Regions from separate parts of the Homo sapiens genome. Here all the other regions are linked to region 3. Evidence: fine-mapped expression QTL. A gene starts in region 3. Each other region holds a variant in brackets. All regions are shown on one strand. Distances are between the middles of the regions.

Region 1 (8,104 bases), 61 kb before region 3:
AGTCATTTATGTTTAGGAAGTTGTTGATACCTAGGATTTCTGCCTTTTTAAAAAATCATAATAATGCATGTGTATTTATATTTCTTATCTACAGCACAAATTAGATGACATGACACAGGATTTAAAAACTTTTTGAAGGGTTTACATATTTTCCGTGTCCTAAATGTGACTACGTCTTGTCAAGTGGCCAGGGAGAAGGTGAAGGCTGAAGTCAAGGTCAGGTTTAGGCTCTGGAGACAGCAGTTTTTGATTCTGATTGTGTTCCTAGAGTATCTCTCCATTTCTAAAATAGGGACACTTTAGTCTCGGTCCTATTTGTATTCAGACAGAGCTCCCTAGTCAGTGGCAGGTTTGGGGAACGTTTTCAGTGTCTATGGGATGTAGATTCAGGGGTGAGAGGCAAGCAGGATGAGGGGCTTGGTGCAGCTTCTGTCTCCTGCTCAGAAGTTTCCTCCCCCCACCCCTGGCCTTTCCTGGTCGGCATCAGTGAGCTCAGGGTCTCCTTGCAAGGGGGCTGGGCTCTCTGACTAGAGGCATGCTGCTGACCTAGAGATAATTAACTGATAGTTTCTACCACGACCTGCTGACCCCTTTATAGGAACCACTGTAAAGATAAAAAGACTTTCTGTTTTCTTTTTTCTTAGCATCTCCGGTGCCTGAAACCTTCACAGTCATCATGCTATTTCGTGTTTATCATTAATCTTCCTGTTGAAAGCATCCCCTTTTCTCCCCTCTTGTTCCTGCCCTGGCCCATTTGCAGTTCAGGTGATCGACCCTCTCAGAAAATGCTCCCTGTGAAGCCAAAATGTGAGTGAGTTAGACTGGGCCATTTCCAGCACGCCCCTCGTCACCCCGTGCCTGTGCAGTGTCACCTACTTCTGATAACAGCCTTGGACTGAGGGCGCAGGAGAGAGTGGTTTTATGCCACAGATACTTCATTCGTCAATGCTGTCTTCCAAATCTTTCTCCTCATGTCCATTATCACAGGCCTAGAACAATTGTTTTTATTAGACAGTTTAATACATTGCCTCTTAGACCAGCAGGCGAACCCGAGCATCTTTCTGACTCCTGTGCTGTCATTAACATGCTTCTTAATTCAGAACAGCTGTTCCTCCTCCCACTCCTCCTCTCTCCCAATCTTTGCTCCTTAGACAAACTTTGCTTATTCAGAAACTTTGGGAAAAAAGATTTTTGAGTAAATGAGAGTTCTGGAAACATAAGGATTTGTCTCTTTCAGCATGGACTTTTTAATTTTAAACATTTTTGATGAAAATCTTTCCAAAATACATTGTTTAGTACCTTCTTAAACAGAGAAAATGGATGAAATTTAATTTTTTTCTTGATGCCTTGGGATCATGACAGTGAACAAGATTTTGTTACTCTGCTGCAATGCAATAGGGCACATAAAGGGTCCCAAATTTTCAGATTCTGAAGTTATTTTGAAAACTTTTAAATATACTCTCGTCTCCCTGCTTTTCATCAGTCCATTGACCAATCACTCTGGTTATCAATGCACCTATTTCCAGAAATTCTTCTACCCTAATTTTCTGATGTTCAGTGTTTACTGTGAGCATAGAAGACCAATATAGACACACACTTACACGTGTGTGCATGCAGATGTGCATTAGAACTGTGTGTAGAGAGGTTTGAGGAGGTACCTGAGAGTTTCCTATGAGTAAATGGAATATGTTATGAGTTCTCTGTTTTGGTTTTCCAGAGACTGCTTTTGTTAAATTTTTTGCTCATTTTAGGAATAGAAAGTTGCAAGACAAATGAGTTTAATAATGATGAAAAGCTCCCAGATTTCTAGGAGCTATCTATCTTTCTAGAAAGTTCTTCCTCGGTTCATTTTTTTTTTTTTTTTCACTTAATGCAAGTATAGGCAATGGTTACTAAAAGGAGATTCCTTTTATGAGAGGCTTGTCATTTCATTATCCCAACTTCACATACAAATGATTTCATTATCTTTAAAAATGTTGTCGTGATATTCTCAAACTATTGTCATTTAAAAAAAAAACCCACCAGGTGCAAAAACAAACTGCAACCACAACAGCTAAATCTGTCTCTTTCTCTCATTGTCCTCTTTGGCAAAGATCTGTGGAAAGCTGAATAAATGAACAGGGCCATTTGACAGAGTGTAACCCACACCAGACCTGTTGTGCAATGCCTTGAACGTAAGTCCTTTTCAACTAAACGGAGGTATATTTTCTTTTATATTGTTGACTTTGACCCTGAAGCTTAGCAAAGAACACTTGTGCAACATTTTCTGGATCAATTTATCATCTGCTCAGAGCAGACATGCATTTTTTCTCATCATTAAAGGGAAACCAAACCCATCAACATAATCCCCGATTCTGCTTTGTTTCTTCCCAGTCCTTCACATTGTAGATTCTGAAATATTAATGAAGAGATGTGAAAGTAATGTGCTCTATTCTCACACCCAGCCCCAGTGGGAGGAAGGATATGGCCAGGGAGTAGGAGAATGAGAAATGTCCTCGTTTTGCAAAACAACGTTGCTCAAAGTCAGGTTGTTGGATTCTATCTCTGAATATCCCAAGGTGGTGATCTAAAATCCAGATTTCTGGGCTAATCTATACCTATGGAATCAATATTTCTGGAGGATGAGGCTTTGTCATTTACATTTTAAATGGATGCATTTAAAACTGATTGGACTAGATGGTGTCCGAGCTTTTTCCTTACTTAACAAATCCTATGCTGCTGGCTCTTATGTGAATACTGATAATAAACTGCTTACAGGCTGGGCATCATGGATCATGCCTGTAATCCCAGCTATTTGGGAGGCCAAGGCAGGAGGATCGCTTGAGCTCAGGAGGTTGAGACCAGCTTGGGCAACATAGTGAGAACCTGTTTCTATGTAAAAAAATTAAATTTAAAAATGTACTTACAGAATACTCATAATGAACTTTATTATTGTAAGAATAATAACTTTTGACTGTATAGCAGCATTTTTAACTTTTCAAAGTGTTTTCCTATTTTCCTATATATAACCCCCCAGAGGGGGGCAGGGGAGGTCTCATTACCTCCATTTTAGAGATGTAATAAAGTCCCCGAAGCTTAATGACTTGTGCCAACTACATCATAACTTAGTGGTCAGGAGTCAGGACTGGCACACAGGTCTTCTGACCTCATTTCACTGTACATTTGGTGTTCTAAGATCCAAGACACAAGAGGATGCTTTATTAAAGTGTCCTTTAAAAACGGACTTGAGCCGAAATCAGCGCCTTCCAAGCTTCTCCACATGCTGTTGAGTGTGCTGTGCATTTGCTCCTGAGAGACGAAAGCACAGATAAAGATGCCCTGCACACTGGGAGAGAAATGGGAATCTTCAAAACAAAGGAATCTCATTCCTCTTCTGTTCATCCCCTTCAATTTTCTGATCCTTTCCCTCCACTCCCTCTTTCTTGTAAAGACTTAAACTCTGAAATAATTATATGAAATTAAGTCGGTAAAAGCCAGGCTCGTTTCCTTAAGATTGATGTGTTAACATTTGGGGCAGTTTTCTCAGGACTCAGGGAGACGATTATTTCTGAGGTTGGCTGCGGGAAGCTTCCTCTTCTCTAGGGAGGGGTGAGGTTCCCTCCCAGGACACCTCCCTCCGTGACACAGCCTAACTGTTAGCAGAAGTTCATAAAAAAAGTTGG[T/A]TGATTTTTTTAAGTGCTGGAGACTTTTCTCCTTTTAATTCCGGTCATAACTACCCACTGTCCAAAAAAAGGAGACACAGCAGGCTCTAAACTCTCTCTGAGACTGAATGCAAATTGAGTGTCTGGGAGTCTGAGGGAGGTGCGGGAAACACTTTCCAGCTCCACTGTCCTGTTTTTATCTGTAGATCAAGATAAGCGAGCGGGTGGATTGTTAGCAAAAAGGAATCTCTTCATGCAAATTATAATTCTCTTAAAAAAAAATAAGCATGAAGGTGTGACCCTGCCTGTCACTTATCAATCTGTGCAGTAAAACTAATGGAAGGTTGGAAGACTGGGATCCTTTGCATTGGAAAATGGCTTGAGTGCCCGTGCTGAAGCCACGCTGAATTTCCCGTGTTCCTGCAGCAGCCTGGGAGGAGACCGGCAGGGTCACATTCTGGTGGTGCCTGCCTGCCCTGACACATCATTTCTAATTATGATGCCTTTGTAAACCCCTTCCCTTTTGCTTCATAGGGCTTGTAAAAGGTACCCGCAAACCTCTGCCTTCCTGTGCCTCTCTGCCCCGAGGTAGAAATCCTCCTCTTGCAGGAAGTGCAAAGCAAAGTTCAAAGCTTTCTTAGTCAAAAGAAAGTGCGCCTGATCCAGGATAACATGATTAGGCAACAATTAGACCAGAAAAAAAAAAAAAAAAAAAAAAGCCAGGGCCCTGCATCACTGGCCAGTGCTGGCCTTCTGCAATCTCTGCTCTTCTAAAAGATACTTATTATTTCCTTGTTCAGTATGAAGATGCAAACCCAAATTGAATACCATTTAGGGTCAAAGCCACAAGCAGCTTTGGGCTGTCAAGGGATGGAGAGCTCTGATGAGTCTGTGATGGAATGTCCCCACCAAACACAGAGGCTAAGGGATGGAGCTTAAGAGAGGGATGACAAAGAAAGGAAGCAAGGGTCCACAGACCCAGGGCAGGCCCTGTCGCTCTGGTGACTTTCTGAATGACTGCCAGACTTGTTTCCCCCCTATAAGACAAGCCCAGTTCAACCCACGTTAAAAGGGGGTTAAAAGAGGTCATAAATCTTTCTGGGCACTGAAGATCCATGGAAAACGTGGCCTGATGTCTCTGACATCTGTTTTGGGTTCTCAGCCTCAGCTGGCCCCACTGCCCTTTCTCCTGCGATGACTCACAGGCCCCATTCAGGCCACCGAGTGGCAGGTATAGAGTGTCTCACCTCGGAGTACTGGGGATGAGGGGTGAGCGTCCGGGCAGCAGGCGAGCCCCCAAGGCTGGCCCGCTGACACCGTAAGTCTATACCCAGGGGCTGGTGGAGGGGAGGCTGTGGGATTGATGGTGTAAATGGGCAGCACACACAGCCTGCAGAGGGGAGGCCGGCGGTGGGTGGGAGAGCGCTGGCTGAGGTTGGTCACACGGAGATTGAATTTCAGCTGAATTAGATCAGAGCTGTGGGAAACAGCACCTCCTTCACACACACAGCCGGTCTCATAGGAAGATGTGGGAGGGCGGCTGGGGAGACAGAGGCAGGCAGCTGCGATGAAATACCGAAGTCCGCTCACAGCAGCTAACAGCTAACTTAATTACTCTACTACCTCTCCCCAGCGCACTGGCCAGAATTCGCAGACCCTAGGGTTTTAGACTGAAACGCTCCATGGTGCCAGGGAAAGATGGGGTGGTCAGCATTTAAAACACACCATGGTTTGGGAGTGAGGCTGCGTGTCTCTCTAAAGGAGGAAAAGCGTGATTATGAAAGTACAGGAAAGGCAGGGAACTTTTAGATCCACAGCTGCAGAAGGCAAACTCCGGAAAGGACTTACGTGGCTTTCACTGCTACCTTTAGGGTTTGATGTTTTATAGCATTTTATTAACATGCAACGCAAGCTCTCAATACCGTAACTGTGTTCGCTGCTGCTGCTAGGAACTGTTCCTCTAATCCCCTTTCTCTGCTTAATAACCTGACGCCATTTCAGTGACCCAGAATACCAGCTTTTCTTGGGAGGCCTTGGAGGAGTGGAAAATTGGGAGAAAGTTTTAGAATTAAAATGGGAACACTTGCAGTCCTATTAAAAAGGGCAAGAAGTCAGCTGCTTTGAAATCCACCCCCTCAGCAGGGGTGGGGAAAGCCTTTCCAGGAGACAGTGGGAACACATTTGTTCCCTAAGCTGGCACCAGAGTGGCTTTCTCCAGGGCAGCCAGGGCCTGGCATTCTGTATACGCCATTTGAATCAGGGAGCCTTCAAATGATCCTTTTTTCTCTTCCTGTCACTCAACAACAGGCTGGCGGCAAAAATTTCTACGGCAGTTTCTCTTGAACCAGGCAGAAAACAACCCCTGAGGCTGCTCGGTGCTCCCTAGTCTCCTGGTTTGCATTGCACATCCATTTTGAGCCTGCTGCTACTGATGAGAAAATGACCTCAAACAACTGCCCACTAAAGGTCCCATGTTGTGACGATGCCGGGGGCTTTCTGCATAGCGCTCCGCTTCTCAGACTGAGCAGCTTCTGGAGTTTTGTACAATGCCTGGGCCTGAGGAAACCTGCCAGGATATTCCTGGTAGGATGAATGATCACCCCCCCGTAACAGACAGAGACACCCAGAGCAGAGACAGAGTTCACACTGTGGGATCTGACTCAATGTTTGAATTCTTAGGAGCTCACCACTTCATTGGATTTCTCATGACTGAAAAAAAGAGACCACTAGAATCTGGATGAGATGAGAATTTAGGTGCTGTTTTAGATTCCCCTAGATTAGGTGGATACCCAAAAGAGTGTGTGGAAAAACTGCAGGGAGGGCCGGGCGCGGTGGCTCATCCCTGTAATCCCAGCACTTCAGGAGGACGAGGCAGGCGGATCATCTGAGGTCAGGAGTTCGAGACCAGCCTGACCAACATGGAGAAACCCTATCTCTACTAAAAATACAAAAGTACCCGGGCATGGTGGCACATGCCTGTAATCCCAGCTACTCTGGAAGGCTGAGGCAGGAGAATCGCTTGAACCCAGGAGGTGGAGGTTGCAGTGAGCCAAGATCGCACCACTGCACTCCAGCCTGGGCAACAAGAGTGAAACTTGGTCTCAAAAAAAAAAAAAAAAAAAAAAACCTGCAGGGAGTCTGAGTCCTCTGAAATGGGATGAAAAATTTATATGTAAAAATTGTGTATATTTCCTCCAGCCCCAGGAAGAGAGCCCTGTGTATTCTGTTGGACAGATCTGCTGATTTTCAAGTTTCCAAGACTCCTCCAGACTTAAGAAGTACTGTTTTATATTAAATATTTTGCAAAGGTAATTTTAAGAGGGAGCATTGGTTTCCCTCAATCACAGGCTCTGCAAAATACAATGCGCTGTCTACTGTATACTTTGCCACATGGAGCCTGGCTGCTTGACTCATGTAACTCAACGTAAACAGTAACTGGGAGAGGACACACACGAGCAGGCAGGGTATGCCCACAGGGTCGCTGCTTGACATGGCTATGCTGCGGCTAGCGTATGGCTCTCCCTTGGATGGATCTATTCTGTTAATACCTCTGTCCCAGAATTTGTAGTCCCAAAGTGGTGCTCTGGGAGGACGTATTAATGAAAAGAAAGAGCATAAATGAGAACCTTAAAGAGTTTACAGGGTTCAGGCTTGATAAACCTCTTGGGTAAGAAAGGTAGGTAGATATAGAGCAAGATTTGCATCCATCACATTGGGAAGAATGTACACTGGCCTGTGGGTACAAACCCCTTTCTGCCAGGTAGGGAAGGTTCTTGGGGGAAAGGTGGTTGTCATAATACATCTTAAACAATAACAAAGATAACAGAATCCCATAGTTTCCCTTTCTGGAGTTGATGTTTGGATGCAAATTACAGGCATGTTTTGCCTTAAACAAATCCAGTGTTAGGCCGGCGCGGTGGCTCATGTCTGTAATCCCAGCACTTTAGGAGGCCAAAGCAGGCAGATTGCTTGAGCTCAGGAGTTCAAGACCAGCCTGGGCAACATGGCAAAATCCTGTCTCCACAAAAAAATACAAAAATCAGACCAGGCACGGTGGCTCATGCCTGTAATCCCAGCACTTTGGGAGGCCAAGGCAGGTGGATCACAAGGTCAGGAGTTCAAGACCAGCCTGGCTAACATGGTGAAACCCTGTCTCTACTAAAAATACAAAATTTGCTGGGTGTGGTGGCACACACCTGTAATCCCAGCTACTTGGGAGGCTGAGGCATGAGAATTGCTTCAACCCAGGAGACAGAGGTTGCAGTGAGCCAAGATTACGCCATTGCATTCTAGCCTGGGCAACAAGAGCGGAAACTCCATCTCAAAAAAAGAAAAGAAAAGAAAATCCAGTGTTGATGAGTTGATTTCCCAAAGCAGATGAACTGGGAAGTTGGGTGTGGTGATTATTTACATTAAATAGTAGCTACTGGTGGTCGGCGTGGTGGCTTACACCTGTAATCCCA
Region 2 (8,104 bases), 79 kb before region 3:
TGTTAGGACTTCAACATATGAATTTTGGGTAGACACAGACATTCAGTTCATAATACATGTGTTTTTTTTTTAAGGAAAGCTTTATTCTATTTAATATTTTCTTGTTATTTTGACAAGGTATGCAGTTCTAGGTGAGAAATAATTTTCTTTTGGAATTTAGAGGTCATCACTCCATTTATTGTTTTGGGTTGCTTGCCTTGTTCCTATTGAGAAGTTTGAAGTCATTCTGATCTGTAATCATTATTACAAGAACTGTTTCTCCACATTGCCATTTGTAAAATCTTTGTCCTCAGTCTAAAATTTAACTGTGATATGTTTTCTTGTGGATTTATTTTCATTCATTGTGCTGGCACTTAGAGGCCTTTCTCAACCAGAAACTCAGATAAATTTTGTTGAACTCTTTCTTTGATTATTTTCTTTCCTTTCTTCTGAAGTTCTTTTATTCTAGAACTTAAATTTTCACATATTGTACCTCCTGGATTGATCCTTAATTGTCTTCTCTCCCCACTCCCTGCCTTTTCCATCTTTTTTAATTTTTGTATTATTCTGGGAGATTTTTATAGCTTTAACGTCTAAACTTTCTACACAGTTTTTAATTTCACATGTTTTAAACTTTTAAATTCAAACTTTTTTATTTTTAACTTGGGAAATAAAAATTATATATATTTATGGTATACAACATGATGGTTTTGATATATGTATGCATTGTGGAATGGCTAAATCAAGCTAAATAACTTCATATTTATTTAATTTCAAAAGGCACATTTTTGCTTTTTGGATGTTTCTTTTTGTTGTTATTTTATATCATTTTGCTTCTATTTCTCAGATGTGATTTTTTTAAAACTCTTAGAAGATATTAATCTAAAATGTTTAAAGTCATTCAAAATTTTTTCTTTGGCATGCATAGTCTTGAGTTCCTCTAAGACACTTTTTCTGTGTGCAGACTCTGAAAGGATCTGGCTCTCGCCTCTCATTCCCACCCCGTTTTGGGTGCACAGACCACCCTTTTAGAGCCATTGGCCTAATTGCTGTGGCTGCAGTGAGGGCAACGTCAGTGGAATGGGTGGTAGAGGAAGCAAGAGTGCAGTGGGGAGAACTAAATGGAGAAGTGATGAAGATAAGGAGGGCAGGCCTTCCAGGGCACTTGTTCATAGCTCATAGAGATCAGCAATTACAATTGGATAATTACTAATTGCAAATTACAGACATTTATAAGAAAGTAGCTCAATTTAGAATAAGGTATCAAGAAAAAGATACAATTTGATATCTCCCTGAAATTCAACCATCAGTTAACCTTGCCTGTTCTAGCTCTATTTTCATCTCAGATGCAGAAGAAACAATCCTTCCTGACTCCATCTTTTCTGAGAATCAGTGCCTTTTAGGACACATGAGTTCTCTGTCTCTGGATTCAGAGATACAACGTTGCAGGGTACTTGGTCAACAAAGAGCTGGATTTATGGCTTTTTCCAGCCTTTACTCATACAAAACCTCCTGGAAATAAAAGGCACTCTTGTGCCTTGTGGGCATTTCAAATTTGCTGTGAACATTCTTTACTGACTATGAGTACTTTTCTGTTTCATAAAGGAGAAAGGGCTTTCTGCTTTATGATATGAGAATTGGAAAGAAAAACTACTTTGTGTTTGGTTTTTACCTATTATCTTGTTTAAAAAAACTTTTAAGTTCATGGGTACATGTGCAGAATGTGCATGTTTGTTACATAGGTAAACGTGTGTCATGGGGGATTGTTGTACAGATTATTTCATCACCCAGGTATGAAGCCTAGTATCCTTTAGTTGTTTTTCCTGATCCTCTCCCTCCTCCCACCTTCCACCCTCTGATAGGCCCCAGTGTATGTTTTCTTCTTCATGTGTCCATGTGATTCTCATCATTTAGCTCCCAATTGTAAGTGAGAACATGCCATATTTGGTTTTCTGTTCCTGCATTAGTTTGCTAAGGATAATGGCCTCCAGCTCCATCCATGTCCCTGCAAAGGACAGGATCTCCTTCTTTTTAATGGCTGCATAGTATTCCATGGCATATATGTACATTTTCTTTATCCAGTCTATTATTGATGGACATTTAGGTTGATTCGATGTCTTTGCTATTGTGAATTGTGCTGCAATGAACACACGCATACATGTGTCTTTACAATAGAATGATTTATATTCCTTTCGGTTATACCCAGTAATGGGATTGCTGGGTTGAATGGTATTTCTGTCTTTAGGTCTTTGAGGAATCACCAAACTGTCTTCTAGAATGGTTGAACTAATTTACACTCCCACAAACAGTGTATACACATTCCTTTTTCTCCACAACCTTGCCAGCATCTGTTAGTTTTTGACTTTTTAATAATAGCCGTTCTGACTGATGTGAGATCTCATTGTGGTTTTGATTTGCATTTCTGTAATAATCAATGATGTTGAGCTCTTTCTCATATGTTTGTTGGCCGCATGAATGTCTTCTTTTCAGAAGTGTCTGTTCATGTCCTTTGTTCATTTTTTAATGGGGTTGTTTGTTTCTTCTAAATGTAAGTTCCTTGTAGAGTCTGAATATAAGTTCCTTGTAGAGTATATAACTGGATTTAAGTTCCTTGTAGAGTCTGTCAGATGAATAGATTGAATAGATCTATTCTGTCTAAATAGGTCTAATAATCTGTCAGATGTAGATTAAGTTTCCTGTAGAGTCTGAATATAAGTTCCTTGTAGAGTATATAACTGGATTTAAGTTCCTTGTAGAGTCTCTCAGATGAATAGATTGCAAAAATTTTCTCCCATTCTGTAGGTTGTCTATTCACTCTGTTGATAGTTTATTTGGCTGTGCAAAAGCTCTTTAGTTTAATTAGATCCCATTTGTCAATTTTTGCTTTTGTTGCCATTGCTTTTGGCATCTTCATCATGAAATCTTAGCCCATGCCTATGTCCTGAATGGTATTACCTAGGTTGTCTTCCAGGGTTTTTATAGTTTTGGGTTTTACATTTAAGTCTTTAATCCATCTTGAATTAATTTTTGTATATGGTATAAGGAAGGCGTCCAGTTTCAATTTTCTACATATGGCTAGCCAGTTATCCCAGCACCATTTATTGAATAGGGAATCCTTTCAATAAGGATGGTTTTTGTCAGGTTTGTTGAAGATCAGATAGTTGTAGGTGTGTGATCTTATTTCTGGGTTCTCTATTCTGTTTCATTGGTCTATGTGTCTGCTCTTATACGAGTACCATGCTGTTTTGGTTACTGTAGCCCTATAGTATAGTTTGAAGTCAGGTAGCATGATGCCTCTAGCTTTGTTCTTTTCGCTTAAGATTGCCTTGGCTATTTGGGCTCTTTTTTGGTTCCATATAAATTTTAAAATAGTTTTCTCTAATTCCATGAAGAATGTCCGTGGTATAATGGGAATAGCATTGAATCTATAAATTGCTTTGGGCAGTATGGCCACTTTAGCAATATTGATTCTTTCTATCCATGAGCATGGAATGTTTTTCCATTTATTTGTGTTATCTCTGATACATTTGAGCAGTGGTTTGTAGTTCTCCTTGCAGAGATCTTTCACCACCCTTGTACTGTTACAATACAGGTATTTTATTATTTTTGTGGCAATTGTGAATGAGAATTGGTTTGTGATTTGGCTCTTGGCTTGACTGTTGGTATATAGGAACATTAGTGATTTTTGCACATTGATTTTGTATCCTGACACTTTACTAAAGTTGCTTATCTGCTTAGAAAGCTTTTGGGCTGAAATGAGGGGGTTTTCTAGATAATAGGATCATGTCATCTGCAAAGAGGGATAGTTTGACTTCCTCTCTTCCTATTTGAATGCCTTTATTTCTTTCTTTAGCCCGATTGCTCTATCCAGAACTTTCAATACTATGCTGAATAGGAGTGGTGACAGAGGGCATCCTTGTCTTGTGCCAGTTTTCAAGGGGGATGCTTCCAGCTTTTGCCCATTCAGTATGATATTGGCTGTGGGTTTGTCATATATTGCTTTTATTATTATGAGGTATGTTCCTTCAATACCTAGTTTATTGAGAGTTTTTAACATGAAGGGATGTTGAATTTTATTGAAAACCTTTTCTTCATCTATTGAGATAATCATGTGGCTTTTGTAGTTCTGTTTCTGTGATGAATCACATGTATTAATTTGTGTATTTCAAACAAACTTTGCATCCCAGGGGTGAAGCCTACTTGATCGTGGTAGATAAGCTTTTTGATGTGCTGGTGGATTTGGTTTGCCAGTGTTTTGTTGAGGACTTTTGCATCAATGTTCATCAAGGATGTTGGCCTGAAGTTTTTGTTGTTGTTGTATCTCTGCCAGGTTTTGGTATCAGGATGATGCTGGCCTTATGGAATGAGTTAGGGAGGTATCCCTCCTCCTCAATTTTTTGGAATCATTTCAGTAGGAATGGTACCAGCTTTTCTTTGTATATCTGGTACAATTCAGCTGTGAATCCATCCGGTCCTGGACTTTTATTTGTTGGTGAGCTATTTATTACTGCTTCAATTTCAGAAGTTGTTACTGGTCTGCTCAGCGATTACATTTCTTCCTGGTTCAGTCTTGGGAGGGTGT[A/G]TGTGCGTAGGAATTTATCCATTTCTTCTAGATTTTCTGGTTTACATGCATAGAGGTGTTCATAATATTCTCTGATGGTTGTTTGTATTTCTGTGGGGTCAGTGGTAATATTCCCCTTATTTCTGATTGTTTATTTGAATCTTCTCTCTTTTCTTTTTTTATTATTCTAGCTAGTGGTCTATTTTATTATTTTTTTTCAAAAATCACTCCTGGATTTGTTGATCTTTTTAATGATGTGTTTGTGTGTGTGTGTGTGTGTGTGTGTGTGTGTGTGTGTGTGTGTGTGTTTATGTGTGTCTATCTCCTTCAGTTCAGCTCTGATTTTACTTATTTCTTGTCTTCTGCTAGCTTTGGGATTTGTTTGTTGTTGGTTCTCTAGTTCTTTTAGTTGTGATGTTAGGTTGTTAACTTGAGATCTTTCTAACTTTTTGATGTGGGCATTTCGTGTTATAAATTTCCCTCTTAACACTGCATTAGCTGTGTCCCAGAGATTCTAGTCTGTTGTATCTTTGCTCTCATTAGTTTCAAAGAACTTCTTGATTTCTGCCTTAATTTCATTATTTACTCAAAAGTAATCGTGTAGGCTGGGTGCAGTGGTTTGTGTCTATAATCCCAGCACTTTGTGAGGCTGAGGCAGGTGGATCACTTGAGGTCAGGAGTTCAAGACCAGCCTGGCAAACATGGTGAAACCCTGTCTTTACTAAAAATACAAAAATTAGCTGGGTGTGGTGGCACGTGCCTGTAGTCCCAGCTACTTGGGAAGCTGAGGCACAAGAATCACTTTAACCCAGGAGGCAGAGGTTACAGTGAGCTGAGATCACACCGCTGCACTCTAGTCTCACCAACAGGGCAAGACTCTGTCTCAAAAAAGAAAATGTCATCTTATTAGTCTGTTCTCACATTGCTATTTGGAAATACCCACCCAAGACTGAGTAATTTATAAAGAAAAGAGGTTTAATTGACTCAGTTCAATATGGCTGGGGAGTCCTCAGGAAACTTACAATCATGGTGGAAGGGGAAGCAAACATATCCTTCATATGGTGGCAGCAAGGAGAAGTGCCAAGCAAAAGGGGGGAAAGCACCTTATAAAGCTATCAGATCTCATGGTGAACTCACTTACTATCACAAGAACAACAGCAGGGGAGTAACTGCCCCCATGATTCAATTATCTCCCACCGGGTCCCTCCCATGTCATGTAGGGATTATGGGAACTACAATTAAAGATGAGATTTGGGTGGTGACACAGCCAAACCATATCAGTCAATCAGGAGTGGGTTATTCAATTTCCATGTAACTGTATGGTTTTCAGTGAATTCCTTAGTCTTGAGTTCTAATTTGATTGTGCTGTGGTCTAAGAGACTGTTATGATTTCAGTTCTTTTGCATTTGCTGAGGAGTGTTTTACTTCCGATTATGTGATTGATTTTAAAGAAGGGTCATGTAGTGATGAGAAGAATGTAAATTCTGTTGTTTTAGGGTGGAGAATTGTATGGATATCTATCAGGTCCGTTTGATCCAAAGCTGAGTTCAGGTCTTGAATTTCTTTGTTAATTTTCTGTCTCAGTGATCTGTCTAATATTGTCAGTGGGATGTTAAAGTCTCCCACTATTATTGTGTGGGAGTCTAAGTCTCTTTGAATGTTTATAAGAACTTGCTTTATTAATCTGTGTGCTCCTGTGTTGGGTACATATATATCTAGGATGGTTTGCTCTTTTTTGTTGAATTGAACCCTTTACCATTATATATAATGCCCTTTTTTGTCTTTTTTGATCTTTGTTGGTTTAATGTCTGTTTTGTCAGACTAGGAGTACAACCCCTGCTTTTTTTCTGTTAAAGTCTGCTTTTGTCAACTAGGATTGCAACTCCTGCTTTTTTCTGTTTTCCATTTGCTTGGTAAATTTTCTTCCATTCTTTTATTTTGAAACTATGTGTGTCATTGCATGTGAGATGGGTTTCTTGAAGACAGCATGCCAATGGGTCTTGGTTCTTTATCCGGCTTGCCATTCTGTGTCTTTTAATTGAAGGCATTTAGCCCATTCACATTTAAGGTTAGTAGTATTGTTATGTGTGGATTTGATCCTGTCGTCATGATGCTAGCCGGTTATTTTGCAGACTTGGTTATGTGGTTGCTTTATAGTGTCACTGGTCTATGTACTTCAGTGTGGTTTTGTAGTGGCTGGTAACAGTTTTTCCTTTCCATATTTAGTGCTTCCTGCAGGAGCTCTTGTAAGGCAGGTCTGATGATAAAGAATACCCTCAGCACTTGCTTGTCTAAAAAGGACCTTATTTCTCCTTTGCTCATGAAGCTTGGTTTTGGTGGCTATGAAATTCTGTGTTGGAATTTCTTTTCTTTAGGAATGTTGAATATTGGGCCCCAATCTCTTCTAGCTTGCAGGGTTTCTGCTGAGAGGTCCACTGTTAGTCTGATGGGCTTCCCTTTGTAGGTGACCTGGCCTTTCTCTCTGGCTGCCCTTAACAGTTTTTCTTTCATTTTGACCTTGAGGAATCTGATAATTATGTGTCTCAGGGATAATCTCCTAATGGAGTATCTTACTGGGGTTCTCTGGATTTCCTGAATTTCAATGTCGGCCTGTCTAGCTAGGTTGGGGAATCCTCATGGATAATATCCTGAAATACGTTTTCGAAATTGGTTCCGTTCTCCTCATCTCTTTCAGGTACACCAATCAGTTGTAGATTTGGTCTTTTTACATAGTCCCATATTTCTTGGAGGTTTTGTTCATTCCTTTTCATTCTTTTTTCTCTATTCTTGTTGCCTGTCTTATTTCAGAAAGACAGTCTTCAAGCTCTGAGATTCTTTCCTCTACTTGGTCTGTTTTTCTATTAATACTTGCAATTGCATTATGAAATTCTTGTAAGGTGTTTTTCAGCCCTATCAGGTGAGTTACATTCTTCTCTATACTGGCTATTTTGTGTATCAGCTCCTGCACTGTTTTATCACGTTTTTTAGCTTCCTTGCATTGGGTTACAGCATGCTCCTTTAGCTCAATAAAGTTCATATTTATTCATATTCTGAATTCTATTTTTGTCATTTCAGCCATCTCAGCCTCAGCCCTGTTCTGAACCCTTGCTGGAGAGGTGATGCAGTCATCTGGAGGAGAGAGGGCATTCTGGCTTTTTGAGTTTTTAGCATTCTTGCACTGATTCTTTCTCACCTTTGTGGGCTTATCTACCTTAAATCTTTGAGGTTGTTGACCTTCAGATGGGGCTTTTTTTCTTTTAACAGTCTAGCCACTTTTCTATAGGGCTGGTGCAGTTTGCTGGGGGTTCACTCCAGTCGCCAGTCACCTCAGATTTTCCAGTACCTGGAGGTATCACCGGTGAAGGCTGCAAAACGGCAAAGATGGCAGCCTTCTCCTTCCTCTGGGAGCTCCATCCCAGGGGGTATGGACCTGTTGCCAGCCTGAACACACCTGCAGGAGGTGGCTGGAGACCCTGGTTGGGAGGTCTCACCCATTCAGGAAGAATGGGATTGGGGACTTGCTTAGAGAAGCAGAACTAGCCATGCTTTCATAGAGCAACTGTG
Region 3 (8,104 bases):
ACCTTTGCCTCAGAATGGTACAGCAATTAGACTAAGAGGTTAGAGAGAGCGGCAGCCCCTTCTTTCTCAGAGCTGCAGGTGTAGCCTCTGGTCCTCCTGAGCACTATGTCCCATGCCTGTTCAATTGAGATCACCTGCACCCACCAGCAAACTGACAGAGACAGGGCCTCATGAAGGGTATCCAAGTAGGGACCTCCACAGTGGCCAAAGCTCTAATGAATGAATAATTGACGACTGGGGCTTCCTCAAGGCCAGTCTCACACCCAGCTACTGGTTGCATCCCTTCCAACAAGCTGGCCACCCTAAGCCTCGTTCATAGAGAAATGCTGCAGCTGGAGTTTGAGGATGAGCTGTTCCTCCCTGGAGATTCTACCACTTTTCCTCTGGGGAGGCCCTCACCTGGGCCTGGCCTTTCGAGTGAATTCCTAAATCTGGAGTGTCTCTCTCTTCCAGGACATCTGGAGTATCTCTTCTGCAAGGGAACGCAGATAAAAGCAGCCTGCGGAACGGTAAGCTAAGTAACTGAACCCAGACTCTACAAACCAGGCAAGAAAATAGGCCTTTGAGCGAAATAAAAAAGGGTGATTCTTCAGGAGAGACGAATTATAAAAGGCAACACTTGCCCACTTCCCCACCCCCAAATGGTAAAAGGTCCTTTTCCTGAGGGGCCAGGCCTGGGCAGTCCCATTTAAGTTGCAGAAGGGGTCAATTTGCAGGACGTACCTTTCATTCAGGGTAGCAAAGATGTTTAAAGTCGTTCTTCACTCAAAGCCTCCAGGGGTAAATCCCTTCTACACAGCAGATGGGAGAAAATTGGGCCTGGTGCCCTCAGTGTAACTCTCTCCTCTGATCCCACCACTCAAGGAAGAGGTCTCCGCCCCTTCCTTCCCGGTTATTACTGAACCACCTAGTTCACCTCTTCTTGATCTTAAGTCCCTTCCAAACTCAGAACAGGCCTTCCCAGACCTCATAAAGAATCCTCACCCCCTCGTTTTTCCTTACCAACAAGTGCTTCCAAGCACTGGAGCATCCATAACTACTTTACTGTGTATTCTCTGTCTTCTCCCTAGGATGTGAGTTCTAGGAGTGCAAGATGGATGACTTTTGGGTCACCTTTGTGTTTTCAGGCCCTAGCACAGCACATGGCACATAGAAGAATACGTATTTATTGGAAGCATTGAAAAATCAGTCAAACTTAAGAAGCAAGACAACCTCATTTGTAATTTTTTTAGAGACAGAGTCTCATTCTGTTACCCAGGCTGGAGTGCTGTGCAATGATCATAGCTCATTGTAGCGTTGACCTCCTGGGCTCAAGCCTCGGCCCCCAGAGTAGCTAGGACACAGGCCACCATGCCCGGTTCATTTTTAAATTTTTTCTAGAGATGGGGATCTTGCCGTGTTGCCCAGTCTGGTCTGGCACTCCTGGCCTCACGCAAACCTCCCACCTCAGCTTTCTACGAAGCTAGGACTACAGGTGCATGCCATGCCTGGCTAATTTTTAATTTTCTTTTTTAAGAAATGGGGATCTTGCTATGTTGCCCAGGCTGATCTGGAGCTCCTGGACTCAAGCAATCCTCCTGCCTCAGCCTCTCAAAGTGTTAGGATTACAGGTGTGAGCCACTGCGCCTGGCCGTAGAGAACCTCCTTTTTGACATAAAAGTAATCATGAACATGTGAGCAATATTTCATTTGGATGCCAATGTAGAGTTAAGCATCCCTAACCCCACCCGGTCTCGTCTCACTCAACATCTGCAGCTTGTCCACGCCTCTCCACAGCAGCAGAAATGAGCCAAAGCAGGAAAGGCTGACTCATTGTAGGTGCCAGAGGCTGGGAAAATCTATAGAGCCAGAGGGGAAGTAGACACGTTGGTTCTGGGGAAGGGTGGCCTGTCACTTTGGGGAAAGAAATGGAAGGTCAGAGGGACTTCTGGAAGGCAGAGGGGAGCAGGTGGGATGGTTTCCTATGCCTGGACCATCAGTTTCTGGGAGGGAAGAGGCAGGAAGTAGTGATGGATGCCCTGGACTGAAGACTGGGAGGGCCAGGAAGGAGCCTTAAAATTTGCACTTCCAGAGAGAAAGTCGGCTGGTGGGATTGACCTCGGACTGACAACTAACAGGCAGCATGCGGTGGAGTTTCAGGAAGCCAGAGGTCTGGGGTGCCAGCAGCAACAAACCCAGGCTGGCTGATGGAAGGGCCCAGCCTAGACAGGGAAGCAGAGGGGCTGCATGGAAAGGCTCAGGGCTGGAGGTGATGTGAAGTGGAATAAGCTTCAGTGGGAGCCAGGAGGTTGTATTTCCCGTTGGGGGCGGTGGTGGAGGGATGGGGGTGCCCAGAGAGGAACTATGGATTAGGCCCAGGCCGGCCACTCAGAGTGCTTGGCATCCAGGATGTGTTAAGATGGCATTGAGGCCGAGCGCGGTGGCTTAGGCCTGTAATCCCAGTACTTTGGGAGGCCAAGGCAGGCGGATCACCTTTGGTCAGGAGTTTGAGACAAGCCTGGCCAACATGGTGAAACCTCGTTTCTACTAAAAATACCAAAAACAATTAGCTGAGCATGGTGGCGCGCGTCTGTAATCCCAGCTTCTGGGGAGGCCGAGGCAGGAGAATTGCTTCAACCCGGGAGGCGGAGGTTGCAGTGAGCCGAGATCGCGCCACTGCACTCCAGCCTGGGCGACAGAGTGAGACACCATCTCAAAAAAAAAATAGCATTGAGATCAATAAGGAAGTCTAGAAACCAGGAAGCTTTTTGCAAAGAGAAAACGCCTTTTGTTATTCTCACCGATGGATATTAAGCTTTCCCTCACAGACAGGACTACAAGCTTCAGAGTGGATCTGAGATGAATGCGAATTGCTGTGTACCTTTGTAAGGGACAGAAGACCGGATTTTCAAATTTAAAACAACCATTCTGTTTCTGGAATCAGAAATCAGTTTCGAGATTTACAACTGTATTTTTTAAAAAATCTGTCTTCTTAGTGGACTCGGGGGGGACTTCACGTGGCACCCAGTACACGCCACGCCAAGCCACCGAAGCCAGAGGTGTGTGTCTGGGGCCAGAGACGTGCATTCCCTCAGCAAGGCCGGCCTCAGACGCAAACGCCAGCACCGCCACCCTGTCGCCCGCTGAGAGGATCTGGCCGCCGGGGGGAGGGGGCGGGGGGGGGGGCAGCGGGGGAACAACAAAAAAATCCCAGCATAATGATTATTCCCAGGGACCGTTGGGTTTTTTTTTCCCCAAGGCGGCCGAAAAAACAAGTGCTCCCCTTCCCCGGAAATGAGATGCACAGGGGTATTCATTCCATTCCGCGGCTGGGAAGCCCCTGCGGAAACGAGTCTGGCTGCATGTGCGGCCTCGGTCCCAGAAATCAAAAAGAGCGTCCCCTGAGCCCACAGCTTGCTCCTCCATGTGACCGGCCCCTGGGCTGGTGGCCACTGTGGACGCGCCCGGCGCCCCCTCTCCCGGCTCCCTGCGGGTTCCGCGGAGCCGCCGGCGCGCAGCCCGGCCAGGTGCACCCGGCACGGCCCCACTAACAGCGCGCGCCTCCAGCCGCCGGGCACTGGCGGCCACGCGGGCGAGATTTACGGTGGCGCTAGGCGGCGGCTTCCGAGGCCGGCCGGCGCCCAGGCTCCGATTACAGGTTCACACTGGGGGCCCGGCCGGCGGCCGCCCAGCCCCCGCCGGCGCGCCCTCGCGCGGCCCGGCTCCCCGCCTGCCCATTCTTCTCCATTCATGCGGACGCCCAGCGCCGCCGCCGCCGCCGCCAGCGCGGCCGCCGCCGTCGCCGTCGCCGGCCGCCCGGATTGGCTGGCGGCCGCGGCGCCGGCACTTTCCCACGGCCCGCGGCGCGTGCGGCTCACCGGAGGCGCTGCAGGCTCGGCCCTGGCGCGCGGCCAGGCCAATCGGGGCGCGCGGGGCGGGGAGGAGCCGCGGCCGCCGGCGGGCTTGTGTCCCGGCCCGGCCTCCCGCGCCTCCCCGCCGCCCGCGCCTCCTCCTTCCCCTGAGTGCAGGCTGGACAGAGCCCCCGCGGAGCCGACGCACCGCCGCCGGGCAGGGGCGGGCGCGGAGGGCGGGGGCGCGGTCCGCTAGAGCCCTCGGCCTCGCTCCCGCCCCTCCCCGGAGCGGCTGCCAATCAGCGGCGCGAGAAACCGGATTGGCCGGGGGGCGGCTGTTGCCCTGGAGTTGCCGCCCCGCCTCTCCGCCCCCTCGCCCGCCTTCCCCACTCCCCCGCCCTCCCCAGGGCCCTGGGAAGGGGCTCAGCGTGGGAAAGGATGGTTGAGTTTTAACCAGAGGCAAAGCGTGAGCGGGATCAGTGTGTGCGGAACGCAAGCAGCCGAGAGCGGAGAGGCGCCGCTGTAGTTAACTCCTCCCTGCCCGCCGCGCCGACCCTCCCCAGGAACCCCCAGGGAGCCAGCATGAAGCGAGCTCACCCCGAGTACAGCTCCTCGGACAGCGAGCTGGACGAGACCATCGAGGTGGAGAAGGAGAGTGCGGACGAGAATGGGTGAGCTGGCGGCGGCGGAGCGGAGCCGAGCCAGAGCGGGAGGCGAGCGCAGGCCTGCCGCGGTGACAGCGGGCTAGGACCCTTGGCGCGCCGGTGCCCTGCGCTGACCTCCGCGCGTCGCAGGCTGGCGGCAGCCTGCGGCCAGGGAACCCCTAGGTGCCTTCCAGCCCAAGTGGCAAAAAAAGTCTGAGTGCGGGGAGGGTGTGGGGGCGACCTCTCAGATCACCTCTCCTCGTTTAACGGCGATTTCAGTTTTTGTTTGTTCTTTTTCTCTTTTCAGAAACTTGAGTTCGGCTCTAGGTTCCATGTCCCCAACTACATCTTCCCAGATTTTGGCCAGAAAAAGACGGAGAGGAGTGAGTCTCTTTACACTCTCCTTTTATTTTTGTTATTGATTAACGGAAATAACCACCTTTTTTTTTGTCTTTGAAATTTACAGTCGTAATGGTAATGCCTTCCTTTGTTTTGCTTGCCTTCTGCAGATAATTGAGAAGCGCCGACGAGACCGGATCAATAACAGTTTGTCTGAGCTGAGAAGGCTGGTACCCAGTGCTTTTGAGAAGCAGGTAATGGAGCAAGTAGGTAAAGCTCTCAGCATAGCTATCTGCACCTTCTGAATCTTCCCCTCATTAATCTCATCCGCCTTGGAAAATAGCTGTGTTGCTTGTGCCTAGATGAATTCGTACACAGATACCAGCGTATTTTGTGAAGACAACTGATTTTGCTTTAGTCCATGCTTTACGATTTACAAAGCATGTATCTTTGTATATATGTTTGCATATTTTAAATTGTTCCCCAAAGGAACTTGTGCCAAATCAATCTTTTGCCATTCTCATCTTTAGGGATCTGCTAAGCTAGAAAAAGCCGAGATCCTGCAGATGACCGTGGATCACCTGAAAATGCTGCATACGGCAGGAGGGAAAGGTACATCTCCTAGACCTAGTGGGGGCTCTGAATGGTTGGCAAAGAGTGAGCAGCGGCTGAAGGCCAGGATTGGTGCAGTAGCTGCCTGATTTTTCTTTGGGGGTGGGGAGAGAACGGTGTGTGGTGTGTGCAGTTCCCTGTCAGTACATTTTCGAATGCACATAGAATCTTCTCCAGTGAATTCACCACCCCAGCTCTCTGCGGATTGAGCTAGTGCATCTTTTGGAAAAATACCTATTATTTGTGAGGTCTTCAAAAGTTGTGACAGCCCTGATTCAGATCAGGTAGCTTTCACATTTGTCCATTGCTATTTTGAGAAAAAGCATTTAAAAACAATATGTGGTCTTATTTTTGGTATACGGGATTTTAAAAAAAAGGTGCTGCCACATGCCTCTTGAGGAAAGAAATGTATTCTGGTTAAGTAAAGGAAACCTAACGGGAGACCAAGGTCTGTGTGTATGTCTCTCCAGCAGGAAAATGCTTTACTGAGGTCCAAGTGCCTAAAAGCTCCGCGATGATAACTTACATCTGTGTGTCTAATGAATTTCACTGCTCTGTGGTTTCTCTGCCCTTGATGTATTTTTTGTTGTTGTTGAGGGAAAACATTAAAGGAATGAACATAGTTTCATCTGCTGGTAGGGTATAATTCCAATTTCTGCTCTGCAGCTTCTAATTGGGCTTTGAACTTGCATTAGCAAACACATTCTGCTTATGTTGATTAATGCAAAGATTTTTGTTGATTCCAAAGACTTTCGGAAGAACCCCTGACTGTTGTGTTTTAAGGGATGCAGGTATCTGCCAGGAAGGGCTGTCTCTGGGACTTAAGAAATGAGGGAAACGGGCAAAGCCCTGAGATTTTTCTTTTGTTCTTTTGCTTAGGTTACTTTGACGCGCACGCCCTTGCTATGGACTATCGGAGTTTGGGATTTCGGGAATGCCTGGCAGAAGTTGCGCGTTATCTGAGCATCATTGAAGGACTAGATGCCTCTGACCCGCTTCGAGTTCGACTGGTTTCGCATCTCAACAACTACGCTTCCCAGCGGGAAGCCGCGAGCGGCGCCCACGCGGGCCTCGGACACATTCCCTGGGGGACCGTCTTCGGACATCACCCGCACATCGCGCACCCGCTGTTGCTGCCCCAGAACGGCCACGGGAACGCGGGCACCACGGCCTCACCCACGGAACCGCACCACCAGGGCAGGCTGGGCTCGGCACATCCGGAGGCGCCTGCTTTGCGAGCGCCCCCTAGCGGCAGCCTCGGACCGGTGCTCCCTGTGGTCACCTCCGCCTCCAAACTGTCGCCGCCTCTGCTCTCCTCAGTGGCCTCCCTGTCGGCCTTCCCCTTCTCTTTCGGCTCCTTCCACTTACTGTCTCCCAATGCACTGAGCCCTTCAGCACCCACGCAGGCTGCAAACCTTGGCAAGCCCTATAGACCTTGGGGGACGGAGATCGGAGCTTTTTAAAGAACTGATGTAGAATGAGGGAGGGGAAAGTTTAAAATCCCAGCTGGGCTGGACTGTTGCCAACATCACCTTAAAGTCGTCAGTAAAAGTAAAAAGGAAAAAGGTACACTTTCAGATAATTTTTTTTTTAAAGACTAAAGGTTTGTTGGTTTACTTTTATCTTTTTTAATGTTTTTTTCATCATGTCATGTATTAGCAGTTTTTAAAAACTAGTTGTTAAATTTTGTTCAAGACATTAAATTGAAATAGTGAGTATAAGCCAACACTTTGTGATAGGTTTGTACTGTGCCTAATTTACTTTGTAAACCAGAATGATTCCGTTTTTGCCTCAAAATTTGGGGAATCTTAACATTTAGTATTTTTGGTCTGTTTTTCTCCTTGTATAGTTATGGTCTGTTTTTAGAATTAATTTTCCAAACCACTATGCTTAATGTTAACATGATTCTGTTTGTTAATATTTTGACAGATTAAGGTGTTGTATAAATAATATTCTTTTGGGGGGAGGGGAACTATATTGAATTTTATATTTCTGAGCAAAGCGTTGACAAATCAGATGATCAGCTTTATCCAAGAAAGAAGACTAGTAAATTGTCTGCCTCCTATAGCAGAAAGGTGAATGTACAAACTGTTGGTGGCCCTGAATCCATCTGACCAGCTGCTGGTATCTGCCAGGACTGGCAGTTCTGATTTAGTTAGGAGAGAGCCGCTGATAGGTTAGGTCTCATTTGGAGTGTTGGTGGAAAGGAAACTGAAGGTAATTGAATAGAATACGCCTGCATTTACCAGCCCCAGCAACACAAAGAATTTTTAATCACACGGATCTCAAATTCACAAATGTTAACATGGATAAGTGATCATGGTGTGCGAGTGGTCAATTGAGTAGTACAGTGGAAACTGTTAAATGCATAACCTAATTTTCCTGGGACTGCCATATTTTCTTTTAACTGGAAATTTTTATGTGAGTTTTCCTTTTGGTGCATGGAACTGTGGTTGCCAAGGTATTTAAAAGGGCTTTCCTGCCTCCTTCTCTTTGATTTATTTAATTTGATTTGGGCTATAAAATATCATTTTTCAGGTTTATTCTTTTAGCAGGTGTAGTTAAACGACCTCCACTGAACTGGGTTTGACCTCTGTTGTACTGATGTGTTGTGACTAAATAAAAAAGAAAGAACAAAGTATTCTGTGGTGTATGTCTTACATACCTTGGCCTTTCCCC
Region 4 (8,104 bases), 37 kb before region 3:
AGGCCTGCGGCCTTCGGTGTTGCAGCACCTGCATCTCCTAATCTCTTCCCTTTAGCCCTCCTACACTTTCACATCCGAAGGCGTCCTGCATTCTTTCCAATGCTGACCTCACTGCCCCAAACTCTCCCCGCCCTAAGCAGGCACTAAATCCTAGGCCTCTACTCTCCTCCATGACCTTTCTTTGCCAACTATCTTCTTTCCTGTCTTCACTACTTTCCTCCTTCCTCCCTTTGACCTACTTATAATTTCTTTTTTCTTTCTTTCTTTTTTCTTTTTTTTGAAATGGAGTCTCGCTCTGTTGCCCAGGCTGGAGTGCAGTGGCACAGTCTTGGCTCACTGCAACCTCTCCCTCCCAGGTTCAAGCAATTCCCTGCCTCAGCCTCCTGAGTAGCTGGGATTACGGGCACCTGCCACCACGCCCGGCTAATTTTTGTATTTTTAGTAGGGATGGGATTTCACCATTTTGGCCAGGCTGGTCTTGAACTCGTGACCTCATGATCCACCTGCCTTGGCCTCCCGAAGTGCTGGCATTACAGGTGTGAGTCACCGCGCCCGACCTTCACTTACAATTTCTAATCTTCCCCCTCTTCAAAGATAAAAGCAACTTCCTTCACCTTCCCTTTCTTCTCAGGCTGCTGTGCTAGTTCTGTCCTTTTCATTCTGCCTATGTGTCTTGAAAAAGGAGCTGCACTTGCTTGTTGTGCACCGTTTGCTCCACACAGCCTCAATCTATGTCCACCCGCTGCTTGACCACACTTGGTCTCAGTTACAGGATCAATGAGGGAGAACCACCCGGGCGTGCATCCGGCTGTCCACCTTGCTAGATGTACAGCCTTGGACAAGTTACCTCCCTCTCTGTGCCCCAGCCTCCTCATCTGAAAAATGGGGATAATGATACTTTTGCTTCTTAATCAACATAATAATGAAATAATAACAGAATGATAATTTGATTAGATTCTGGTAAGGTTAATACATAAGAGGAGGTGCAAAGAGAGTGAACTAATAATAGACAAAAATAAAAAAGGATTCATTCCATCTCTCTGGAACGCCCTTATCTCCCATCTGATACCCAGTAGGTCCCAGTGAGTCATTCTCATCCCAGTTTACAATTGCCTTCTTCCTCAGATCTCTCCTGACTGTCCACCTCCGCCGACGTGAATGGTCTCTTTAACCCTGGTACTTAGGGAATTTAACCTTAGTGCTTCTCACGTGGTGCTGTCTTTGCCCTGTCTTGCTCGGCAGTTAGTCATAAGCGTGTCCCATGTCCTCCACATCCCTGTGACATCTCGCAGGCCAAGGGTCTGTTTTACTTGTATAGTAGTGTGCTAGAGCAGCCATCACAAAGGACCACAGGCTGGGTGGCAAAAATTAATTTTTTCACAGTTCTGGAGGCTACAAATCTGAGATTAAGGTGTTGGCAGGGCTGTTTTCTCCCGTGGCCTCTCTCCTTGGCTACAGATGGCCGTCTTCTCCCTGCGTCTTCACATCATCTTCCCTTTGTGTTTGCCTGTGTCCTAATCACCTCTTCTTATAAGCACACAGTCAGACGGGATTAGGGCACACCTGTATGACCTCATTTTCACTAAACTATCTTTTTTTTTTTTTTTTTGAGACAGAGTCTGGCTCTGTTGCCCAGGGTGGAGTACAGTGGTGTGATCTTGACTTGCTGCAACCTCCACCTCCCGAGTTCAAGTGATTCTCCTGCCTCAGCCTCCCAAGTAGCTGGGATTATAGGTGCCAGCCACCATGCCCAGCTAATTTTTGTATTTTTAGTAGAGACAGGGTTTCCCCATGTTGGCCAGCCTGGTCTCGAACTCCTGACCTCAGGAGTTCGCCCACCTCGGCCTCCCAAAGTGCTGGGAATACAGGGGTGAGCCACCGTGCCCGGTCTTACTTAACTATCTTTTTAAAGACTCTTTTTGGCCAGGCTCGGTGGCTCACACGTGTAATCCCAGCACTTTGAGAGGACGAGATGGGCAGATCACGAGGTCAGGAGTTCAAGAACAGCCTGGCCAGCATAGTGAAACTTCATCTCTACTAAAAATACAAAAATTAGCTGGGCATGGTGGCGCACGCCTGTAATCCCAGCTACTCAGGAGGGTGAGGCAGGAGAATTCCTTGAACCCAGGAGGCGAAGGTTGCAGTGAGCCAAGATTGCGCCACTGTACTCCAGCTTGGGTGACAGAGTGAGACTCCATATCAAAAAACAAACAAACAAAACAAAAACAAAAAAACTCTTTTTTCCCAAATACAGTCACATTCTGAGGTACTAGGAGGTTAGGACATTGGCAGATGAATTTGCTGGGGGTGGTGTCACAGTTCAGCCTACAACACTTATTTTTGATAGCACACAGTATGTAACATGGTGCCAGCCACATTTGTGTCCTTAATTAATTAAACAACCTGGGAAGAAACCAGGGAAGGGGAAACAAGTCAGGAAGTAGAGAAAAGTAATCCCTAAAATCTGTTTCCCATACGATCTTGGGGAAATAGTGGAGAAAGCAAGAGAGGTTATTCTTCACCTCTAATGTTTTCCTTTCAGTCACACATCCTCATACAAGAGGATTATTTCATTAGACTTGGGTTTCCTTCTGCTTGCAAAATGATACCCCTGGGAAGGATGACATAATAAAAAGACAAAATGGAGCAAGGCAGATTCTGCTTTTGTTGCTCACAACGATGATACCTTTGTGGCCTGGCACATAGTACATGTTAGTGATTGTTGGTTTTACTCTTATTGTTATTACCATGACCATGATTATTATGGATTCTAAGTTCTATGAAGACAATGATATTTATTTTTTCATTGCTGTACTCTCTGGCCTCACACAGTACTTAGTAAAAAGTAGAAGCTCAACATATTTGTTAAATAAATGGACATAACCTCTGAGGTTCTCTTTCCTCATCTCTAAAAAGAACTAATATTTATTGAGCAATTACTATATGTGAGGTCTTGTGCTACCTGTTTTAGATGGATTATTTTATTTAATCCTCATAGCAATCGTGTGAGGTAAGTACTGTTTTTATTCCCAGTTTTCAGATGAAGAAAGTGAGGCAAAGAGAGTTAAGTAACTGGTCAAGGTCACACAATTAACAAGCTGTGAGCTCTGACTTAGTTGTACTCAAACCTGAAGTACTAACCAATATATTATATTGCCTCCTTCATTTCTATAAAGAGGATAAAAATTCCCACCTCACAGGCTTGTTGAGAGGAATTAATGGGAATTTGTAAAGTGTCTAATATGCAGTAGGAGCTCAATCAATATCAAACCCTCTGCTTTACTCTGCACAACTTATGTTACTGTGTAGACAAGTGCTGTGGGATCTGTCCTCTAACTAAAAACTCTCCCCAAATCCTCTATTAACCCAAGCACCCTGCAGCTGCTGCCCCATTTTTCTTGCTTCCCTTCATAG[T/C]GAAATTACTCTGTACTGAAGAGATGTCTGTACTTCCTTTCCTCATCTCCCGTTTGGTCTTGATCCCAGAAAAATGAGACTTCTGCTTCTCCTCTCTTCTGAAACTGCTCTTAGCAAGATAACCAAATACACCCAACAAGTTCAATCCAACAGCTCTTTCCTGTTTCCTTTTTTTTTAACCTCATAGCATCATTCAACAGAGCCAATCACTCCCTCTTTCTTAAAGCTTCTTCTCAAAACTCCCTGATTTTGTTTTACTTCCCTGGATGCTCCTTCTTTGTCCCCTTTGCTAGTTCTGTTACCTCTGTTCTAAGTCTAAATGTTGAAGTATCAAAGTATCCCAGGCCTCAACATATATATATATATATATATTTTTTTTTTGAGACAGGTTCTTGCTCTGTCTCCTGGGCTGGAAGATAGTGGTATGATCATGGCTCATTGCAGTCTTGAACTCTTGGGCTCAAGCTCTCCTCCTGCCTCAGCCTCAGGAGTAGCTGGGACTACAGGTATGCACCACCACACCCAGCTAATTATTATTTATTTTTTGTAGAGACAGCATCTCACTATATTGCCCAGGCTGGTCTCCAGCTGCTGGCTTCAAGCAGTCCTCCCCACTCAGCCTCCCAAAGTGCTGGGATTACAGGAATGAGCCACTGCACCTGGCCTCAACTTCTTTATCTATATTCTCCAGCCAGGAAATCACATCCAGACCCATGACTTAAATGGCATCTGTATGTGGATGGTTCCAAATGTCTGTCTCCAGCCCTCATTTCTCCCTGGAGCTTCAGATTCATGTATCCAGCTTCCCATATGACACTGCCACTTGGAATTGTAATGGGCATCTCAGACATCACATAAAATACAATTGATTCAGCATTCCCTTCCTTTTCCCAACCTGGACCTCCTACATTCTTCCCCACTCATGCAGTGGCTCCATCTTCCACACAGTTTTTCAGAACAAAGATCCAGGAGTCACCTGTATCTCCCTTATTCTACATTTGCTCCACCAATGAGTCCTGTTGAAGGGTTTACTGCCAAAACATATCTCAAATCTATCTATCTCAAATCTCCTCCTTGGTATTAAAATAAAATTCAGAGTTTTAGGTAGGTGTAGAGGGTTCCCCAAGGTCCATCCCCCTCCCTCTAGGGCCTTCACCATGGTTGAAATCCCCCTCATTCATGGTGCTTCAGGCACATCTTCTCTGTTCCTTGAACATGGCTGACCTATTTCTGTCTAAGGGCCTTCGCACTTGCTATTCTTTGTGCCTGAAATTCTTTTCCCCAGATCTTTACATGGCTGGCTGCTTTTTATCATTTAGGTCTCAACTAAAATGTCATCTCCTCAGAGAAGACTTCCATAATCACATTGGTTAAAGTAGCTTTTTTTTTTTCTTTTGAGCTAGAGGCTCGCTCTGTCTCCCAGGCTGGAGTGCAATGGCGTGATCTCGGCTCACGGCAACCTCTGCCTCCCGGGTTCAAGCTATTCTCCTACTTCAGCCTCCTGAGTAGCTGGGATTACAGGCACGTGCCACCATGCCCAGCTAATTTTTGTATTTTTAGTAGAGACGGGGTTTCACTATGCTGGCCAGGCTGGCCTCGAACTCGTGACCTCGTGATCTGCCCACCTCAGCCCCCAAAGTGCTGGGATTACAGTCGTGAGGCACCACGACCGGCCTAAAGTGGCTTCTGACCCACAGCTGTACATCTCTCTAGTAGTTAGTAAAGTGTTTGGCTGCAAATAAGAACAAACTTAACAAAGGCCTAAATGGATGGAGCCTTATTTGTCTCAAACTGATGAAGATGTCCAGGGTAGTTAGGTGAAGGCTCTGCAGGGCTCAATAGTGACAGCAGGGATGCAGCCTCCTTCTTGCTTCCTACTCTGCGGTAGTCATTAACATCATGACATTCTTCCATATGATGATCACTCCATGATTGCAAGATAGCTGCTGTGCCTCTGGGTATTATATCTTTGTTTCAAACAAGGAGAAGGGAGAGTTTAAAGGATCAAAGTCTTTTCTTATGTGGCTCTGGCTCTGCATTTTATTGGGCAGGAAAGTGCTCCTCAGGGTATTTTGTTTGGAGCCATGGATTTGTGTCAGGCTGCTACTCTCTTAGCAGTAAGGGAGGTTGGGGAAACAAGCATTTCACCTTTCTGGCATGTACTCTAGAAACTGCAAGGGACAAGGGGGATGTGAATGACACAGGCCAGCAAATCCCAGCCACCTTTTGTGTTAGATTGTTCTGCGTAATTTTTTTCATCAAATTTGTTTTTTATAATTTTTTCATAAAATTTAGCTTTTAATTTTTTTTTTTGAGACAGGATCTTGCTCTGTTGCCCAGGCTGGAGTGCATTGGCACCATCTTAGCTTCACCTCCTGGGCTCAAGCAATAACCTTCACCTTCACCTCCTGGGCTCATAACCTTCACCTCCCAGGCTCAATCAATCCGCCCGCCTCAGCCTCCAGAGTAGCTGGGACTACAGGTGTGCACCACCATTCTTAGCTAATTTTTTCATTTTTGTTGTTGTGGGGGTCTCACTATGTTGCTAGGGCTTGTCTTGAACTCCCGGGCTCAAGTGGTCCTCCCATTTTGGTCTCCCAAGTGCTGGGATTACAAGCATGAGCCACCACATCAGGCCCAAAGTTATGATTATGTGAAATTATCTTACTATTTAACTGTTTTCTTACCTATGGAATGCTCTTATTTATGGTAAGCTACAGAAGAATAGAATACAGAAGAATCTCTTTTGTTTGAGGCTGTGACCAGAAGTCCCTGGCACATAGTAGGCATTCTATAACCATTTGTTGATTTTCAGATAAACAAGTGAACAAACAAAAGAGAAAATGTGCCTCCATGTTGCAAATAGATTTCTGTAATACATAATACATCCACAAAGCACTAGATAATCAAAGTTTAATTGTGAACATCCTATGCAAATTGCTGGCATGCCATGAGGATGCTGTTGAATGTGCTGTCCTTTTGATCTAAGGAATAATAGTGGTCCTGTTCACCACAGTTGCATTGGTAAGAGTGACGATGGTATCTTCTGTGAGGTCCACTCTGTCTCTTCAAGTTGTCTTTGTGACAGAGAGCTTGACTAGCAGAGTGTTCATGGGTCAGAGAGAAGCACAGTGTCTTCCCACAGGATTTAGCCACTGGCCATGTCTGGATTCATGGTCGAATTCACTAGACTTCCTGGACACATACAAGCCCTAGAATAGGACATAAAATACCAATGACATAGACACAGGCTTGGTCAGGTACATGCCAAATTTCTATGCCAACCCAAAGCTCTATTTATAAGAAAGGATTTTGTAGTGGCTTTCAAGCTCAAGGTTGAACATGGTCACTGTTGGAATCTAGACAGCCTGGTAATGGTTAGTGGGCTAAGAGAGTAGACTCCTTTGCAGAGGGCACTGAATAGCCTCACGGGAGTGCCTCAGCCTAAGGAAGAGGTGGCCTACTAAGTTCAGCTAATCTGAATGTCTTGGTGTCCAGCAGGGAGGAAGGAGAGAGTCTGAATACTGCTCCTTGTCCTCAGATGAGCTCTTCCTGTACTCATGTCTGGATCCAGAGGAAATAAGACATGTAAGTAAATATGGGAAGTATTTTCATTACAAAACCTCCAACTACAAAGCACAGTGTCATACTGCTTTGGTGCCTGTGTGACAAGAGGTTATACAAGGCGAGAAGGAGGTGCTCTTTCCCTTTCTTCATGGCTTACAGCCATGGCTGTGATGCACAGAGGGCTTCGGAGAACACAGAACCTCCTTAGCTTGTTGAGGTTTCCAGTGCGGTAGCCACATCTTTAGCACTTGTTCCTGAGCACACCGAAAACATCTCCAGGAATGCTCAGAAACAAGCAGGAGAGACCTGGAGGGGATGGAGTTCCTACAAAAGTGAGTAGGAAGGAGAGCTTGAGATGTTTGTTTCATTGTTTGTAATAGGAACCCATTTTAAACATTAGTTCCCATCCCCATCTCAGCCTAATGAAGCCCATAGAAAATGGGCTCATACATTTGTTGAACAAATATTTATTGCCAGGCACTGTACTAGATGCTGAAGATAGAGCAAGGAACAAAATAGACAAAGTCGTTACTTTCATAGAACTTACATTATACAGGGAGAGTCTTAGTCTATTGGGCTGCTATAGCAAAATACCATAACCCGGATAACTCATAAACAATAGAAATTAATTTTTCCCTGTTCTGAGGCTGGGAAGTTCAAGATAAAAGTGCTGGCAGATTCAGTGCCTGGTGAGGACCCTCCTTCCTGGTTCATCGACACTGTCTTTTCTGTATCCTCACATGGGAGAAGAGGCGAGGGTCTCTTGGGGGCCTTTTTTATAATGGCACTAAATCAGTTTGTGAGGGCTCTACCTTCATGACCTGATCACCTCTTAAAGACCCCACCTCCTCATACCATTATACTTGGGGTTTAGGATTTTAACAAATGAATTTTGGGAAGACACAACATTCAGCCCACAGCAAGGAGAGATAGAAAATTAACAGATTTTGATGATAAAATTGCTGGAAGGACTAAGAATTGGATATAAAAAGAAAAATTCATTGAGAATATTTCATCAAGAGTCAAAAGAAAAGTTTGGGGAGAATTAATCATAGGAGGAAGATATCAACTATTCTCCATCTGCACTTAAATGACTGCAAGTCATAACCAGCCTTTCTGTGAG

What was found. PIP is the estimated chance that this variant, and not a neighbour inherited with it, causes the effect.
Region 1: its variant is fine-mapped to the expression of HEY1 in whole blood (TOPMed, PIP above 0.99).
Region 2: its variant is fine-mapped to the expression of HEY1 in whole blood (INTERVAL, PIP above 0.99).
Region 4: its variant is fine-mapped to the expression of HEY1 in whole blood (TOPMed, PIP above 0.99).

Annotation. Positions count from the first base shown.
Region 1 is chr8:79,824,571-79,832,674 of GRCh38, reverse strand. The region is part of intron 2 of LOC101927040 (a long non-coding RNA gene); the gene reads left to right. Among named protein-coding and RNA genes, the nearest start is that of LINC01607, 60 kb to the right of the region's middle. The variant T/A (reference allele first, on the strand shown) is at 3,663.
Region 2 is chr8:79,842,954-79,851,057 of GRCh38, reverse strand. The region is part of intron 2 of LOC101927040 (a long non-coding RNA gene); the gene reads left to right. Among named protein-coding and RNA genes, the nearest start is that of LINC01607, 79 kb to the right of the region's middle. The variant A/G (reference allele first, on the strand shown) is at 4,562.
Region 3 is chr8:79,763,972-79,772,075 of GRCh38, reverse strand. It overlaps HEY1 (hes related family bHLH transcription factor with YRPW motif 1), which reads left to right and starts at 4,309. Exons shown (of 5, transcript NM_012258.4): 1 at 4,309-4,501; 2 at 4,782-4,857; 3 at 4,984-5,067; 4 at 5,344-5,425; 5 at 6,305-8,066. The coding sequence starts at 4,413. The coding sequence ends at 6,888. It overlaps LINC01607 (long intergenic non-protein coding RNA 1607), which reads right to left and starts at 3,934. Exons shown (of 4, transcript NR_125410.1): 1 at 3,858-3,934. It overlaps LOC101927040 (a long non-coding RNA gene), which reads left to right. Exons shown (of 6, transcript NR_110954.1): 5 at 454-509; 6 at 1,071-2,704. RefSeq lists silencers at 3,137-3,306, 3,407-3,766, 3,807-4,286 and enhancers at 4,737-4,786, 6,373-6,612.
Region 4 is chr8:79,801,009-79,809,112 of GRCh38, reverse strand. It overlaps LINC01607 (long intergenic non-protein coding RNA 1607), which reads right to left. Exons shown (of 4, transcript NR_125410.1): 4 at 6,271-6,626. It overlaps LOC101927040 (a long non-coding RNA gene), which reads left to right. Exons shown (of 6, transcript NR_110954.1): 4 at 6,916-7,002. Among named protein-coding and RNA genes, the nearest start is that of LINC01607, 37 kb to the right of the region's middle. The variant T/C (reference allele first, on the strand shown) is at 3,415.